3 separate regions of the Homo sapiens genome follow, and regions 1 and 2 are each linked to region 3. The links come from fine-mapping of genetic effects on plasma protein levels. Region 3 holds a variant in brackets. A gene starts in each other region. All regions are shown on their reverse strands.

Region 1 (5,219 bases), not on the chromosome of region 3:
CTAATAACAGCATAAAAATAAAAATATAATTGATAGCCTCTTTAGTGTCACGTTTATGGTTTTATTTTAGTGAATATAAATTTTTGAGATTTGAATTTTCATGTCCAAATGGTCCTGGCCTCTAAATGTCTCCTAAACATATTTTTCTTTCTTTTCTTTTCTTTCTTTCTTTCTTTTTTTTTTTTTTTTTTGAGACAGAGTCTTGCTCTGCTGCCCAGGCTGAAGGGCAGTGGTGTGATCTCAGCTCACTGCAGCCACCCCCCTCCCGGGTTCAAACGATTCTCCTGCCTCAGCCTCTGGAGTAGCTGGGACTACAGGTGTGCGCCACCACGCCAGACTAAATTTTGTATTTTTAGTTGTGATGGGGTTTTATCATGCTGGCCAGGCTGGTCTTGAACTCCTGACCTCAGAAGATCCACCTGCCTCAGTCTCCCAAAGTGTTGGGATTACAGGGATTAGCCATCGCATCTGGCCACCTAAACCTATGTCCTCCATGAGGCTATAAGATTTTCACCTGCAAATACCAGCATTGTTTGTTTCTTTTTAAAAGATACTTCAGTCAAGGAAAGGCAGAAAGCCAGGCATGTTAGCTCATGCCTATAATCCCAGCACTTTGGGAGACCGGAGGCAGGAGGATTGTTTGAGCCCAGGAGTTCAAGACTAGTCTGGGCTACATAGCAAACCCTGCGTCAAATTAAAAATAAAAAATAAATAGGCTGGGCATGGTGGCTCATGCCTGTTATCCCAACATTTTAGGAGGCCAAGGTGGGCAGATCACCTGAGGTCAGGAATTCGAGACAAGCCTGGCCAACATGATAAAATCCCGTCACTCCTCAAAATACAAAAATTAGCCTGGCATGGTGGCACACACCTGTAGTCCCAGCTACTTGGGAGGCTGAGGCAGGAGAATCGCTTGAATCCGGAGGCAGAGGTTGCAGTGAGCCCGAGATCATGCCACTGTACTCCAGCCAGGGTGACAGAGCAAGACACTGTCTTAAAAGTAAAAATAATAAAAATAAATAAAATTAATAATTAAAGAAATAAAGAAGGAACACCACAGGGGAGCAGGCCTGGTGTCTGAATGTTAAGGTAGGCCCTCTGTGGATGTGCATCCTTAACCTTTTCCTGATTAGATCATTAAAGGTGCAGCAATGCTCCTGCTCATATGACTTTTTTTTTTTTTTGAGATGGAATCTTGCTCTGTCGCCCAGGTTGGAGTGCAATGGCGCGATCTTGGCTCACTGCAACCTCCGCCTCTTGGGTTCAAGCGATTCTTCTGCCTCAGCCTCCTGAGTAGCTGGGATTACAGGCGCGTGCCACTATGCCTGGCTAATTTTTTTTGAAATTTTTTTAGTAGAGATGGGGTTTCACCATATTGGTCAGGCTGGTCTCGAACTCCAGACCTCGTGATCCGCTCACCTCGGCCTCCCAAAGTGTTAGGATTGCAGGCGTGAGCCACCGCGCCTGGCAACTCATATGACTTTTAAACACTTCTCTTTGGGGAGAGAGATTTTAGAGAATGGGAGTAAAGAGAAAGGCGGTGAGAATCCCAAGTACTTTCTCTATCTTAGAGCAGAAGAAATAAAGGGAAGAGTAAAAGCCCAAGGCCCAGAAACGGATTTGCTTCTTAAAGGGCTGTTCTGTGTCCCTACGGGCCTGAAGGTCAGTTTATGTGCAATGCTTTTTAAGGTATGGGTTGCTTTCTTGCATTGTAGCTACTACCTCCCTGGCCTGCTGGTTACTGACCAGAGGGAGGGAGAGGGTGTGATTGTTTGGAAAGAGTTTAAACAGTGACAAGAATTGAATTTTATTTATTTGTTATTCATTGCACAATCCAATAACAGCGATGGCAATGAAAACGAAAGTTAATCTACAATCCTATCACCCTATTAAGTCACTTGTTTCTATTTTCCCTTTTATTCCCTCATGCATTAAACATTACGCAAAGCACTCCGCTAGTCTTGGTTAAAGTGCAGCTTGTATACATTCTGAATAAAAATTTGCATTTTGCTTTTCTTTTCCTTTTTGTATTTCTGAGGCTGCAAAATACATCTTCACAAGAGTGGCTTTAATAGTTACCTAACATTCCATCCTGCACGTACATTTCAAGGCACTGCCGCAGTGCAATATCCAACATTTAAGCGTCAACGCCAACAGATTGGACCTAGCACTGCAGGGACTGGAGGTTGGTCAAGGTCAGGCGGAGGCTGCCAGGCTACCAGGGTGGAGGAAGGCGCCGAGGCAGAGGCCAGTGCGCCCATCGCGCGGCTCCTCGGGGCACCTGCTGCCTTGGCGCCTTTTCCCTTGGCCTTCGCCTCGCCCGCAGCGCCCTCCGCATAGGGCCCCGCCCGCTGCGCGCGCATCCCCGCCCCCCGGGCGATCTGTCAGAGCACCTCGCGAGCGTACGTGCCTCAGGAAGTGACGCACAGCCCCCCTGGGGGCCGGGGGCGGGGCCAGGCTATAAACCGCCGGTTAGGGGCCGCCATCCCCTCAGAGCGTCGGGATATCGGGTGGCGGCTCGGGACGGAGGACGCGCTAGTGTGAGTGCGGGCTTCTAGAACTACACCGACCCTCGTGTCCTCCCTTCATCCTGCGGGGCTGGCTGGAGCGGCCGCTCCGGTGCTGTCCAGCAGCCATAGGGAGCCGCACGGGGAGCGGGAAAGCGGTCGCGGCCCCAGGCGGGGCGGCCGGGATGGAGCGGGGCCGCGAGCCTGTGGGGAAGGGGCTGTGGCGGCGCCTCGAGCGGCTGCAGGTACACGGGGTCGGCGGCTGTGCGCAGAGGCGTCCCTGCGCCTCTCGTCCCTTCGCCTCTCGTCCCTTCCCTTCTCTCTGCCTTCTTGCCCGCCTCCTCGGTCACAGAGCGACGAATGACGAGACCAGGTGTACCCCCACTGTCGCTCTCAGCCCCGGGGACTTCGGGTCCTCGCCCTTGAAGGCCGCAGGCCCTAGTGCGCCGGCTCCGGGCTGCGGGTCCGGGAGCGCGGGCGCAGCCAAGGTGCAGCTGCGCGGCGTGCGGCGCCGGGGGAACACGTGGCTGCTCCAGGAAGTCGCCCCAGGGAACGGCTGGGATTCGTGGGTGACCTTGGGCTCCTAAACCTTCGGTTCCCCGGGCTCCGGGCGGGCCCCGTTCTCACTGCGGAAAGGGACAAAGCTGTCCCCGATTCGGTTACTAGCGTGTTACAGGCATTAATTAGATACGGGTTTCTGTAAACTTACCCTTCGGCTCTGGTACAACCTGATCTTGCCATGCTCTGCCTGTTCGCCTTGTGTGTGGATTCTGTTTTCTCAAGGCAGAATCCGACTGAACGCCGCAGGTGTTCACATTAAGAATATTGCTAGCAGTTCTCACTACAAGACGGGAGCCATAGGAGTGACTTATTTGTGAAAGATACTTGGAGATTAGCGGTGTGGTCAGAGGGCTGTGCTGGATTGATGGGCGCCGGAGAGGCCGATTGTGTCACATTCTGCTGGACAGTTCTTTTAAGGTTGGGAGGGTGGGTAAGAAAATACATTCTGATTCGGCTCTTTTCGGATAACGCTTTCCCTCTGCTTACTGCTTGTAGAGACCTCACTTACCCGGGGGACTGGATTCTGCAGCTTTTTCCATTTTCTTCCCCGTTGATAAGAGGATTAAAGTAGGAAATTGTATTTGGCTACCCCATGCTTATATGCTAAGCTTACTGTGAAAATTAAGGTTAGGCTGTCTAGAGTACTTGTGGACCCTGCTGGTTCCCCCCGCCCCCCGGCCCTGAATTTTGGGTTACAATATGCTTCTCAAGAAAACTCAGAGTTAAGATAATTTTTGTCATCGATTTTGCAAGGTTATATATAGCATAGCATCCTTCAATTTCCTTTGGATGTTCTTATCAAGTAATGGTGGCTGTAAACCTAGCCTGTGTTGAAGATTGTTAGATAGACAGCAGTTTGGCTAACTCCGCCCTAAGGCGAGGCAGTTACTTGCCTCTGATAATGTATTTAAATGTCATGGAGCAAGATTCCCAGCTAAACCTGAATCGATCACAATGCTAGTTAAAAATGACCCTCGGCTGGGCGCATTGGCTCCCGCCTGTAATCCCAGCACTTTGGGAGGCCAAGGCAGGCGGATCACCTAAGGTCAGGAGTTCGAGTCCAGTCTGACTAACATGGTGAAATCCTGTCTCTACTAAAAACACAAAAATTAGCCGGGCATGGTGGCTCACGTCTGTAATTCCAGCACTTTGGGAGGCCGAGGCAGGTGGATCACTTGTGGTGAGGAGTTCGAGACTAGCCTGGCCAACATGGTGAAACCCCGTCTCTACGAAAAATACAAAAATTAGCTGGGCATGGTGGTGCACACCTGTAATCCCAGCCACTCAGGAGGCTGAGGCTCGAGAGTCGCTTTAACCTGGGAGGCAGAGGTTGTAGTGAGCTGAGATCGTGCTACTGCACTCCAGCCTGCGCGACAGCGAGATGCCATCTCAAAAACAACAACAAAAAAACTCCCTACTAAACCAGAAGAGTGATGGGGACGGGAAAAGATTCCTGGTCCAATGTTTTCATTATATTTTTCATATCATTTGGAATCTCATGCATCAGGCATGCCCCAGTACTGTTAAAGACAATATTTTTACTCATTATCAGGTAGTTCAATACCAGTTATTACAGGATAGGGAAGTCAGTCAGAGAAGGCTTCATAGAGATGAAGCCTTGAGCTGAGCCTGGAAGAAATGAGGAGGACCTCAAGGAACAGAGAAGAATGTTGGTGGGTAAAAACAGGGGCTGGATTCTGTCTGATTTTGGAGAAAATAGAGGGTAGTGAAGTTGTTAGGCAGTGAATGTGTTCCATTTCATGGTTCAAAACGTGGGGCTACGTTTTGCCTACCTGAGCTTCATTATTAATGTGAGAAATTGAATTGTTGTTTTCAGTCACCATTGAGAACACCAAAGATAACACAAGTAGCTTAGATTATTATTTATTTATTTATTTTTGACAGAGTTTCACGCTTGTTGCCCAGGCTGTAGTGCAATGGTGTGATCTCGGCTCCCTGCAACCTCCACCTCCCCCAGGTTCAAGTGATTCTCCTGCCTCAGCCTCCCCAGTAGCTGGGATTACAGGCATGCGCCACCATGCCCGGCTAATTTTGTATTTTTTTGGTAGAGATGGGATTTCTCCATGTTTGGTCAGGCTAGTCTCAAACTCTCAACCTCAGGTGATCTGCTCGCCTCGGCCTCCCAAAGTG
Region 2 (5,180 bases), not on the chromosome of region 3:
TCCTGTGGAATCCCAGGTGTTATATATATATATATACATATATATATATACACATATATATATACACACATATATATACATGTATATATATATATACACACACACACACGTATTTATGTAGACACACTTACATAGTTAAAATGCATTCACTACCCTTTCACTGATGATGCCTGCATAACCCTGTGCTCTCCTCTCTCCAGGGAATGCCTTCCAAATCACTGGTACTAGGTAAAGACTAGGAAAAACCAGACCTACAGATTAAAAAAAAAAAAAAATCACCTCCAAGCAGCAGTCTCTTTGCTTTTTCACATGTTTGGAAAGAGAAGTCAACATACTACAGCTCTAAATTATCACCATCGTCATTATTATTATGGATAACGTTTCCTCTGTTCCAAATTAGACCCTCCTCTGGGCAAATAGGGCTTGCGAGTTAAAAGTGAATGAGTTCAGTCTCCTTCTTCTTCCCGGAGGAAAAAAAAAAAGGAAAAATAGCATGCGATGACGTCAGTTGTGGGTTGTTGGGGGGAATCACTGTATCGCTCTCCTTTGATAGCTGGAAAGCGGGGGCTTCGGGAGACGTATTCTTGGGATAGCAGCAGAGTGTGGGTCTCCTAAAGGGGTCTTCATGTCAACTGGATAGTCAGTGCTACATCTGTGAAAGTCCAAGCCATGGAAAGACAGGAAGAAGCAGAACTGCCCGGAGAGCTCACAGCTTTCCCTTCTAAGAAAGTGTGTGTGTGAGGGGGTGGGATCGCAAAACGCCTTCACACGTTTCCTGGCTGCAGTGAAGGGGGAACCCCTACTCTCACTTTAAGACGTCCCAGGACATGGCAAGATTGTTTGTGCAGAAAGGGAATCTCCCAGACAGAAAAGGCAAAACTTTCCTCCTCTCTTCCAGCGCCGCCCCCACCTCCGCTCCCCAGTTTTATTAAAGGCATTTCCACAGATTCATTTAGAGGGGGGAAAATGGATGCTGGAGCATTTCTAAGGTTTGCAATCCTCGCAAAGTGTCCGATTTCACTATAGGCTTTGCTGTGGAACAGCGAAGGGGAGAGAGAGGGAGGTTGAGGAGGGAGAACTCAAATTCATTACGGGCTCATAAAGTCCCATATGAGAAAAGCGCCCCGTTTCGCAGCCGCGTCTGGGGAACGCTGGCGGGGTATGCGTTAGGAAGGTCTCGTCCCAGCCCCGAGTGACAGGCAATGGGCTTTAAAAGCTAGGACATGGGATGGCGTGGAGGGGGTGAGGGTGAGTCCCAGAGGCAGGCTTCAATCAGTGAGCAACTTTGGGGCACTTCGAGGACTTCTAAGTCCTGGCCATTACAACAACCTTGCCCTTGCCGGCTTTCAGGGGAATGGGGCCTAATGAAGGGGAGTTACCTCCATTAAAACGTCAAAGAAATCAACGGTCCCCAAGTCTCCTTTCACATGCATCTCAATTGGGTCATCCTCCCTTTCATCCCAAAAGGAGAGAGTGCATCTGACCATTCGGAGCACGGGTTACGTGCCCTAGGCTCCGGGAACCAGCCCTCACTGGCCGAGGGTCCGCGGGGCCGCCAGGAGGGCTCCCCAGGTTCCTCCCAGGGATGGAGCAGCTACGCCTTCCGAGTGTGCCCATTCCACCGATGGAGCAAAGTGAGGCTCTCAGCTCGCCCGGATGTCTCTGCGCCGCTCGCGGGGCAGCTCTCGCACAGACACGCCCGCAAGCCCCCGACCCGCCCGCCACCCGCGCCCAGACACCCGCGAGCCTCTGGGGCCGCAGGGACGGTGCAGCGCCCGCCGAGGCGCCCTCACCTACCTGTGATCACTGCCGGAGACCTCTGGCCCCCCTCCGCTCGCAGCCACACTTGCAGCGTGAACGCGTCCCGGGGCAGCTCGAGGTCGGCCCGGAGGCGCAGCTGCTCGCCTCGCCCGCTGAAATAGAGCGCCCGGCTCGGCGGGCTCGGCTCCTCGGTGGCGCCCCTCGCCTCCCGCTGCTGCCGCCGCCGGGGGACGCGCACGGCTTCCCAGGCACCGCCCGGCGGCGGCGGCGGCGGCGGCGAGGCGCGGCGGCCGCGGGCCGCCCGGGTGGCGCAGGTGGCCGGGCCGGCGGCGGGGCGCGGGGGTCGGCCGGCCCGCGGGTCTCTCCGGGCCCGGCGGGGACGCTCGGCCAGCCCGCAGCCCAGCGCGGCGCTCAGCAGCCCCAGGTGCAGCACCCAACTCCAGAGCCGCATGTCCGACGGTTCCCCCCGCCCCCCCTTCGCCCCTGCACCGCCACCCGGAGCTGCCAGCTTTGGGAGCCTCGGCGCCTCGACTTTCTTCGCTTCTTCACCCTTCTTGGGCGAGCCCCCCTTTCCACTTGCTTTTTTCTTTTCTTTCTCGCTTTCCTCCTCAAGGTGTGTGCTCCACTCTCCCCACCTTTGAAAAATACAGCCCAACTCCTCCTGGTTGGCAATTAATTTCTCTCCCCGCTCCTTTATCTGCCTTATTTTTCCCCTAACAGCTGGTTGCCTTCCTCCTTGTTTTATTTCATTTTATTTTATATGATTTCTCGCTCCAAAAAAAAGCTCCTCTTAAGACTGATCCGCTGAATTCCCTCCCCCCAAAAGATGCTCTAATTTATTTATTTTTTGCGTCCTTTATAACACAAGCCACAGCCCCCTTCTCCCCCCCCAAGTCCCCCCTCCCCTCCCTCCTTCTTCTCAAAATGAAAGGAAAGAGGGGGAAAAAATCCCTCAGAAGATGAGTAAACAAGCGTATGCTAATCTGCTCCCCAGCGCTCCACCTTCCCAATTGAATGAGTCCCTGTTAAAACTGCGGGGATCATGACTAATCAATCAGTTTGGAGAGGCCGAGCTATCCAGCTTTCCTTCACTTTGCCTTTTGCCTCCTTTCCTTCGCTCCCGCTTCTCCACCACCCCCTCCTTTTCTCTCTCTCTCTCTCTCTCTTTTTTTTTTTTTTTTTTTAAGGAGACAATCTTAAAGTAACAATTTAATGAAATTCTGTACACACCCCCTTACGGTCCTCCCAGCTCTCATTCCTGCTCAAAACACACATTCCTGTTTTTGTTTTGTTTTGCTTGCTTTTTTTCCCTCCCTCACTCCCCCCACTTATTATTATTATTTCTGATGGCAGGAGAAAAATCTGTCTCTTCTCTTAGGATCCCCTTTGCACTTTGCTGGTAAACCTCATCCTTTTCTGTAGCACATAAAGAGTCTTGAAACTTGATTCTTAGATTTTTTTTTTTAATTCTCTCTCTCTGTCTCTCCCTCCCTCCCTCTCCCTCTCTTTCTCTTTTTCTCACTCTCTCCCTTACTCTTCTTCCCGCTTCCTCTCCCTTTACCTCTTTCCCTCTTCTTTTCCCTGTCCTTTTCCCTCTCAGAATTTCCTTAAAGTTGTACGATGATGAACCATTCCCCTCTTTTCTGAGCCCCCAGATAAGGCTGGCTTCAGCTAACCCAAATGTTTCCAAAGTTCTTATGGAATCATCAGAAGAAAATAGAAGAAAGGCACTGTCCAGGACATCTGCCTTTCAGAAGCTGTAGTCCTAGTACAACTGGGTCTCTGAATTTCCCCGAATACTCTTTAAAATACTCTGTTGGTCATTAGAAATTATTTTAATTTTATAAGAAGAAAATGAGAGAAAAATATTAATTTGCCTAATGTTTTCAACTTAAGCAATTCAGGTCCTCTGAAATTGTTAAAGTCACAGGTAAGGATCTGACCATTTGCTGCTTTGTAGGTCTGTTTTTGAACTGGGACATACATGTAATATATTTTTTTCTTCTTTTTTCCCCCTCTTTATAGAACTCAAAAGCTCCCCCTTATGGCAAAACAGATCTTCTTTTATTTTGTCCAAGTGTTTAATAAGTCAAAACATGTTAGCAATGGTGGATTACAAGCTATTAATTACCAATCTATTCCAATAAGGTAGTGATAAAAATATTCTGTGTGAAGTTTGCATGTGAATAGCGTGCTGAAAGTCTGCGATAAAATTAACTCCACTAAATTGTAACTTTCTTCTTCAATTGCTCTTATCTTCCGAGCTGCTCCAGATCTTTCTTGAGAGCTAGGAACATTGCTACACGCTTCAGGAAGAGAGAAAACCAAGGAAGAATGTTTGTTGGCAAAAGTATGACGATTTGTCGGATGAGCAAATGACTCAGACATCCCCTCTATGAAAGCTGGAATGCGATATATGCAAAGATTATGGAAGCTTTCTGAAAATGGGAGATCTCAGATTCATACCTTCCTAGTTTAGAAAGAAGTTGCTGAATAGTCTTAGACTAAGAACGTTTGAACTCTGTTTCTGTAGTCATAAAATGAAAATAGCACAATACCCTAAATGTGTTTCCAGAGACTGGCTGGAGGAAAGAAAATCTTGGGTGCACAATGTCATGAATAAAGAATTTGCCTAAGCAAATCTTTGACTTTTTGCAACTCCAAGTCATCTGTAAAAGGTTGCCATTGGATAAAAAGAGAGCTATGTTGAACAACATAAATTGTATCATTCAAAATCCCCCTTCCTCTCCAATAGAGGTTGGACCATGACTACTGATTTACTTCAGTTGTGGCAATTAGGCATTTAGAAACTGCATGTCTTCCAGGGGGATTTTAAGTCATTGTATACAATAATTTTGAATATTCCTAGACAACTGGGAATTATTCAATTCTCAGACCAGCAGTGGGAGCACAAGATTTTTACTTCTCATTTCCTACTCCCTCCAACACATATCAGTTCACTGGCCTTGAGTAAGACACTTCATTTCTCTTCCCTTCCACTTCCTTACCTTTAAAATGGGAATATCTACTTGGCAAATTTATTTTGAGGACAAGATATGCTCTGGGGTATAATCTTTTGTAAACAATAAAAATGATATACGAATACCATTTGTTCTATTGTTGTTGTCAAAGACAAAGTGCTCCTCAGGTTCTTAAAGACAAACAAGAATTGAGGAGGCCAAGTTATTTCTCTCCTGTAGGAGGCAGGAAAACGAAGGGACAACGAAGTTCATGTCTTATGGGTCCTTGAACTCCTTGATCTCCGTCCTCAAATGCACTGGGATCATTTGGCAAGACATTTCACTCATCCATTCATTGAACATACATTTACTATTTGTTTCCATCTGTCTTGGAAGCCATTCTAACTCTTTATGCATATATGTATGTATGTATTTGCTTGTTTTTAATTGAGTGCATAA
Region 3 (5,219 bases):
TAACTGGGGTACAGGGCCTGTGCCCCGGGGTGAGCCCAGCCCCATGTGAGTCCCGGAGGCAGAAGGTGCTTCCGTGAACTGTGAATGTGTCTCCTCTTCTAAAAGTCACGTGTGATTTTATGGGAAGCCACAGAGGGTGCTGCCATGGCACCGATCACCCCAACACAGATGAGAAGACCGAGGTCAGAGAGGACCTGGCTCCACAGAGAGGCAGCTGGCTGTGAGTCAGATGCAGGCCAGGCAGAGGGTGGGAAAGACCAGGAAGCAGGAGGAGCCCTGGAGGCAGAACAGGCCGGCCCCTCCCCAGACACAGATCCCTCCACTCAGGAACCGTGGGCCCCCCAGACACAGATCCCTCCACTCCGGAACCGTGGGCCCCCCAGACACAGATCCCTGCACTCAGGAACCGTGGCCCCCCAGACACAGATCCCTCCACTCAGGAACCGTGGGCCCCCCAGACACAGATCCCTCCACTCAGGAACCGTGGGCCCCTCCCCAGACACAGATCCCTCCACTCAGGAACCGTGGGCCCCCCAGACACAGATCCCTCCACTCAGGAACCGTGGGCCCCTCCCCAGACACAGATCCCTCCACTCAGGAACCGTGGCCCCCCAGACACAGCTCCCTCCCCTGTGCCGCTGCTCAGGACCCACGGGGGTCCCCACTGGCCCCTGAATCAAGCACTGTGCTACAGTGGGGGTTCCTGTCCCAGGGGCGCCGTGCTCATCCACCCACCCTGCCCCGCGGAGCAGCGCCCCTGCCACCTCCCACCTGCCGAAGAGACCGCACACAGCCTTCCAGCCCTGAGGGGCCTTCATGGCTGGTGGGGTTGGAGGAACGACAGCTAAAGGCGGGTGGGGGTGGCGAGCGCTCTGAGGGCAGCCCCGGATCTGCCGTCCGGCCACCGTGTGTGCAGAGACCCACAAACGGGCATCCACGTGGCCTCTGCTGCCCTTAGAACATCCTTCTCTGGAAGAAACGTGGCAAGACAGCAAAAATTTAAAAAAATAAATGGCTTGCCATCTTTGACATGCTGACCTGAGCCCGCCCATGCCGGGATGATTTTTCTGGGATAAATTCCCAGGAGCCAACTGCTGAGTCAAGGGAAGCAGCAGCTGCTGGCGCTGGGGCAGCCCGGACCGGGTGGCTCCGACCTGCGAGGTGGGGACCCTCGGCTAGGGGGGGTCACCAAGGCCACTGCCTCCAGCAGCACTGGACGGGAAGGGACAGTGGGGCTCTGGGAGGCTGGGGACAAGCCCAAGACCTACAGTGACTCCAGGGTGGATCCAGATGGGAACCTGGGGCCAAAGACCCTGTCCATGGCCCCGGGCGGCCCACAGGGCACAGGGACGGGGTTGGGGGACATGGAGGGGCAAGCACAGAGGCGTCAGGCCTATGGGGCAGAGGTGGGTCCTGAGTGCCCGGCGCCCGGGCCCCTGGGCAGGGCGGGAGAGGGCGGGGGGCCGGGGTGGGAGGCACCCTCACGAGACGCAATAAACCCGAGATAGCATCTTGCCGCATCTCAGGCCCTGCTCGGCCCTTTCGGGCAGGATATGACCAGCCCTCGAGCCGATGGCGGCCCCTTTGTCCCATCTCCGGGGACCGATCTTATCAGCTGCGTCCACGGCCGCTGTAATGGAAAAGCGCAGTGAGGAAATAAAAAGTTACACGCAGAGAAGGAGGAGAGATAAATAAATAAATAAATAAATAAATAAATAAATAAATAAATAAATGGGGGGGGGCGGGTGGAGCCGCGTCGGGGGTGGAGGAGCTACTAGGAGTGTTAAACCATGGGTTGGGGCGTTTGCAGGGCTGGGGTCAGGAGGTCAGGGCTCACCGGCCTGGTCTCCACCTCGGATGAACCACGTGAACTCACTGGGCCTCAGTTTGCTCATCGGCCCAGGAGCCCCCTCGCGGGCTGGGGTTGATCCCATGGCAAACAGCAGTGGCAGGAGGGCCCTGCACCCACGCCCACTACCTCCATCACCAGCACCAGCGGCAGGGCCCTGCACCCATGCCCGCTATCTCCATTATCATCAGCACCAGCGGGAGGGCCCGGCACCCACACCCGTTACCTCCATCATCAAGAGCACCTGCGGGAGAGGCCCTGCACCCACACCCGCTATCTCTATCATCACCAGCACCTGCGCGATGGCCCACGCACCCAGGCCCACTATCTCCATCATCACCAGTACCTGCGGGAGAGCCCATGCACCCACACCCGCTATCTCCATCATCACCAGCACCTGCGGGATGGCCCACGCACCCATGTCTGCTATCTCTATCATCACCAGCACCTGCGGGAGGGCCCACGCACCCATGTCTGCTATCTCTATCATCACCAGCACCTGCGGGATGGCCCCCGCATCCATGTCTGCTATCTCCATCATCACCAGCACCTGCGGGAGGGCCCCGCACCCATGTCTGCTATCTCCATCATCACCAGCACCTGCGGGAGGGCCCCGCACCCATGTCTGCTATCTCCATCATCACCAGCACCTGCGGGAGGGCCCCCGCACCCAGGCCCACTATCTCCATCATCACCAGTACCTGCGGGAGAGCCCATGCACCCACACCCGCTATCTCCATCATCACCAGCACCTGCGGGAGGGCCCCCGCACCCATGTCTGCTATCTCCATCATCACCAGCACCTGCGGGATGGCCCCCGCATCCATGTCTGCTATCTCCATCATCACCAGCACCTGCGGGAGGGCCCCCGCATCCATGACCGCTACCTCCATCACCAGCAGTGGTGTCTCAGTTTCCCTCCTGGGCAGGAGGAGGTGGAGAAGTCAGGCCAGTGTGGGGAGGGGCCAGCCTTAGAGACCCTGACATATCCCCAGCCAAGGCTGCACCCCCACAGGGAGGGCCC[G/A]CTGTACCTGTCGGTCAGGTGAGGACACCGAGGTGCCGTCTAGGGACCCAGCACTGTGCCCAGGACCTGGCTCAGCCCAGGGTGGCCAAGATCCGAGCTGACCACGCAGACTTGCTGGGAAAGAGAAACTGTGGGCCCTGCCCTGCCCCAGCAGCCCCAGGGAGCCTGAACTGTCCTGTCCACGTCTCACAGATGAGGACCCTGAGCCCAGAACAGGGCACAACAGGCCCCAGGTCTGCGGTGAGAGAGGTGACACCTGGAAGCTGAGTCTGCCGTTGTGCCAGCGGGAGGGTTGGTGCCAGTAACGGCAACAGCACTGCTGGCAGCAACAGTCCTAGCAAGGTGACAGAATGACCCAGAGTGACAGCGACAGCACCAGCAAGGTGACAGCGGCCAGGCCAGCAGCAGCACTCTCTAATAGCGCTGTTTCTGTGCTAGTGACAGTCACGGTGCCCACGCTGGTGGTGACACGGGTGTAGTGGTGGGAACAAGGGCAGCTGGGGCAGCAGCTGCCAGCGACACGCTTGTGGCTTGCCCAGCGCCTGCCCACTGTCCCAAGGGTCCTCCCAAGAGCGCCCTGTGGCCGTCTTCCTGACGAGGCCACCAGCTCATGGGGGGAGCTGGCTGTGTCCCCGGCCATGCGGCAGGCCCAGGAGGGGCAAGGAGGGAAGCTTCTGGGCAGTAGCCGGGGCTCCAGGGGCTCGCCCAGGTGACTCTGGTGGGCCTGCCCCCGAGATGTCTGGGAGGGGCCGGTAGGGCAACGGCGGGGCCTGGGTGGGGGCTGGTGGTGGGGGATGGCCGGGGCAGGAAGCCGGGTGGGAGGGCGGAGGAGGAAGCCAGCTTGATTAGCGCCTGCGGCCGAGATAGGCTGCCCTGGCCACAGATAGCCTCTCCCGGAAGGTGGTGAGGCCAGAGGGCAGCACGGCAGGCAGCCAGGCCCGGCCCCCGCCCCCCAACCACCAGGATGGCTGGAGACCCAGGGCTCCGGCTGCGCTCCTCATGGGGCATCCACTGTCCGCTCACCCTCTGCTGGCATGGGGCCGAGGAGGGGCCGGGGAGCCCACGGGACTTGGGGGCTGGACCCGGAGAGGCTGGATGGGTGGGCCTGGGCCCTTCCCTGGGAGGCAGGCCTGTGGGCTCTGTGCCCACTCGGCCCCTCCCCAGCATGGGGGTGGGGTGGCTACCTCACCTCTCCTGGCCTCAGTTTCCCATCTGTGAATGGGGACACTGCCCACTTCAGCCAAGCCCTTTCTCAGATCTCCCTCTGTCTGCCCCTGAGCCGTCCTCCACCCAGCCAGCGGGATTCAGGGGCCACCCAGGTGGGGTCCCCCACACTGCACGCAGACCTGCTCCGTGTCCAGCCTGCTAGGCACCAGGCTCCGCCCTGTCCACGTGCGCGGTCCTGCCTGCCCCCTGGCCCCTTCGCTGCTCCCAAAGTCAGCTGGGCCGGCCCCACCCCAGGCCTCTGTACCCGGCTTCCTCTGCCCTGGCCTGCGTCTCCCACCCGCTGCGCGGCCCCCACGACTGCTCTCTTCTCCTCCGCGGCTGCTCTGGAGGAGGTCTGTTTTCCTCACGCTGCATCCCCCTGTCTATCACAGGGCTGGCACATAGCTTGTGCTCAATAAATGGAAGTACAAGGGAGTGAGTGAGTGCCGGCTCTGCCTGCGATTTCGGGACTTCGAGGCCCAGGTGACTTTCCCGGGGTGGAGGCTGAAGTCAGGGCCAGGTTCAGGAGGCGGCTTCTGTATGGCCAGGGCTGGGGTGGGTGCGGGAGGTCAGCCAGGCCCCAGGGTGCCGGCAGCCTGGTCATGGGGGAGCCACGGGGGCCGTTGGGGAGCTGGGGATGAAGGAAGGGGAGCCGGCCTCGGGGGCTGCAGATGGCTCTGGCCCCAAGCTCAACCCTGTCCAGGGGCTCCGCCCACAGGGCCTTGCGTGGAGAGGCAGGCCTGGGGTCTGGTGGTGCAGGCAGGACCCGGGTGCAGCCCCCACCCAGGCCTGGGGCCAGTGCTTGGGAGAGGGGAGGGAAGGGTGTCATGGGAAGGCTCAGGGCCAGGGGCAGCCAAGGTGTCCACGCCAACGACCCAGGGTCAGGCCAGCCAGAGCCTGCGACCTCTGAACTCAGTTTCCAAGATAACCACCCTCTGCAGCCGCAGGCCCAATGTGATGGGGCCTCAGGCTCTGAGCTGACTGCTGCCTCACCCCTGCGATCACTCCAGATTAGAGGGGTGCCCCCGGCTCCGGGACTGCGCCCTCGGCCTGGGACACCGTTTCCAGACGCCCCTCGTTCATTTGGAACTCAAACGTCGGCTCAGCGAGGCCGGCTCTGCCTGCCCCTCGGACATGTGG

Which allele goes with the higher level. Positions count from the first base shown, and alleles are read on the strand shown. Strength reflects both the effect of a copy and how common the allele is.
As copies of A replace G in region 3, the plasma level of the protein whose gene starts at base 2,493 in region 1 goes up (weak association).
For the plasma level of the protein whose gene starts at base 2,594 in region 2, allele G in region 3 goes with a lower level than allele A (weak association).

What was found. PIP is the chance, under the fine-mapping model, that this variant and not a neighbour inherited with it causes the effect. Protein levels are from antibody-based Olink assays in UK Biobank. Linkage for the fine-mapping came from a reference panel and not from the study's own genotypes, which makes the PIPs less certain.
Region 1: it holds the start of TFRC, and the variant in region 3 is fine-mapped to the plasma level of the TFRC protein (UK Biobank, PIP 0.92).
Region 2: PAPPA starts here. The variant in region 3 is fine-mapped to the plasma level of the PAPPA protein (UK Biobank, PIP 0.98).

Annotation. Positions count from the first base shown.
Region 1 is chr3:196,079,364-196,084,582 of GRCh38, reverse strand. TFRC (transferrin receptor) reads left to right here and starts at 2,493. Exons shown (of 19, transcript NM_001128148.3): 1 at 2,493-2,540. RefSeq lists silencers at 2,171-2,510, 2,561-2,860 and an enhancer at 3,742-4,241.
Region 2 is chr9:116,151,205-116,156,384 of GRCh38, reverse strand. PAPPA (pappalysin 1) reads right to left here and starts at 2,594. Exons shown (of 22, transcript NM_002581.5): 1 at 1,798-2,594. The coding sequence starts at 2,212. RefSeq lists a silencer at 728-817.
Region 3 is chr16:88,498,580-88,503,798 of GRCh38, reverse strand. The region is part of intron 3 of ZFPM1 (zinc finger protein, FOG family member 1); the gene reads right to left. Among named protein-coding and RNA genes, the nearest start is that of ZFPM1-AS1, 30 kb to the left of the region's middle. The variant G/A (reference allele first, on the strand shown) is at 2,874.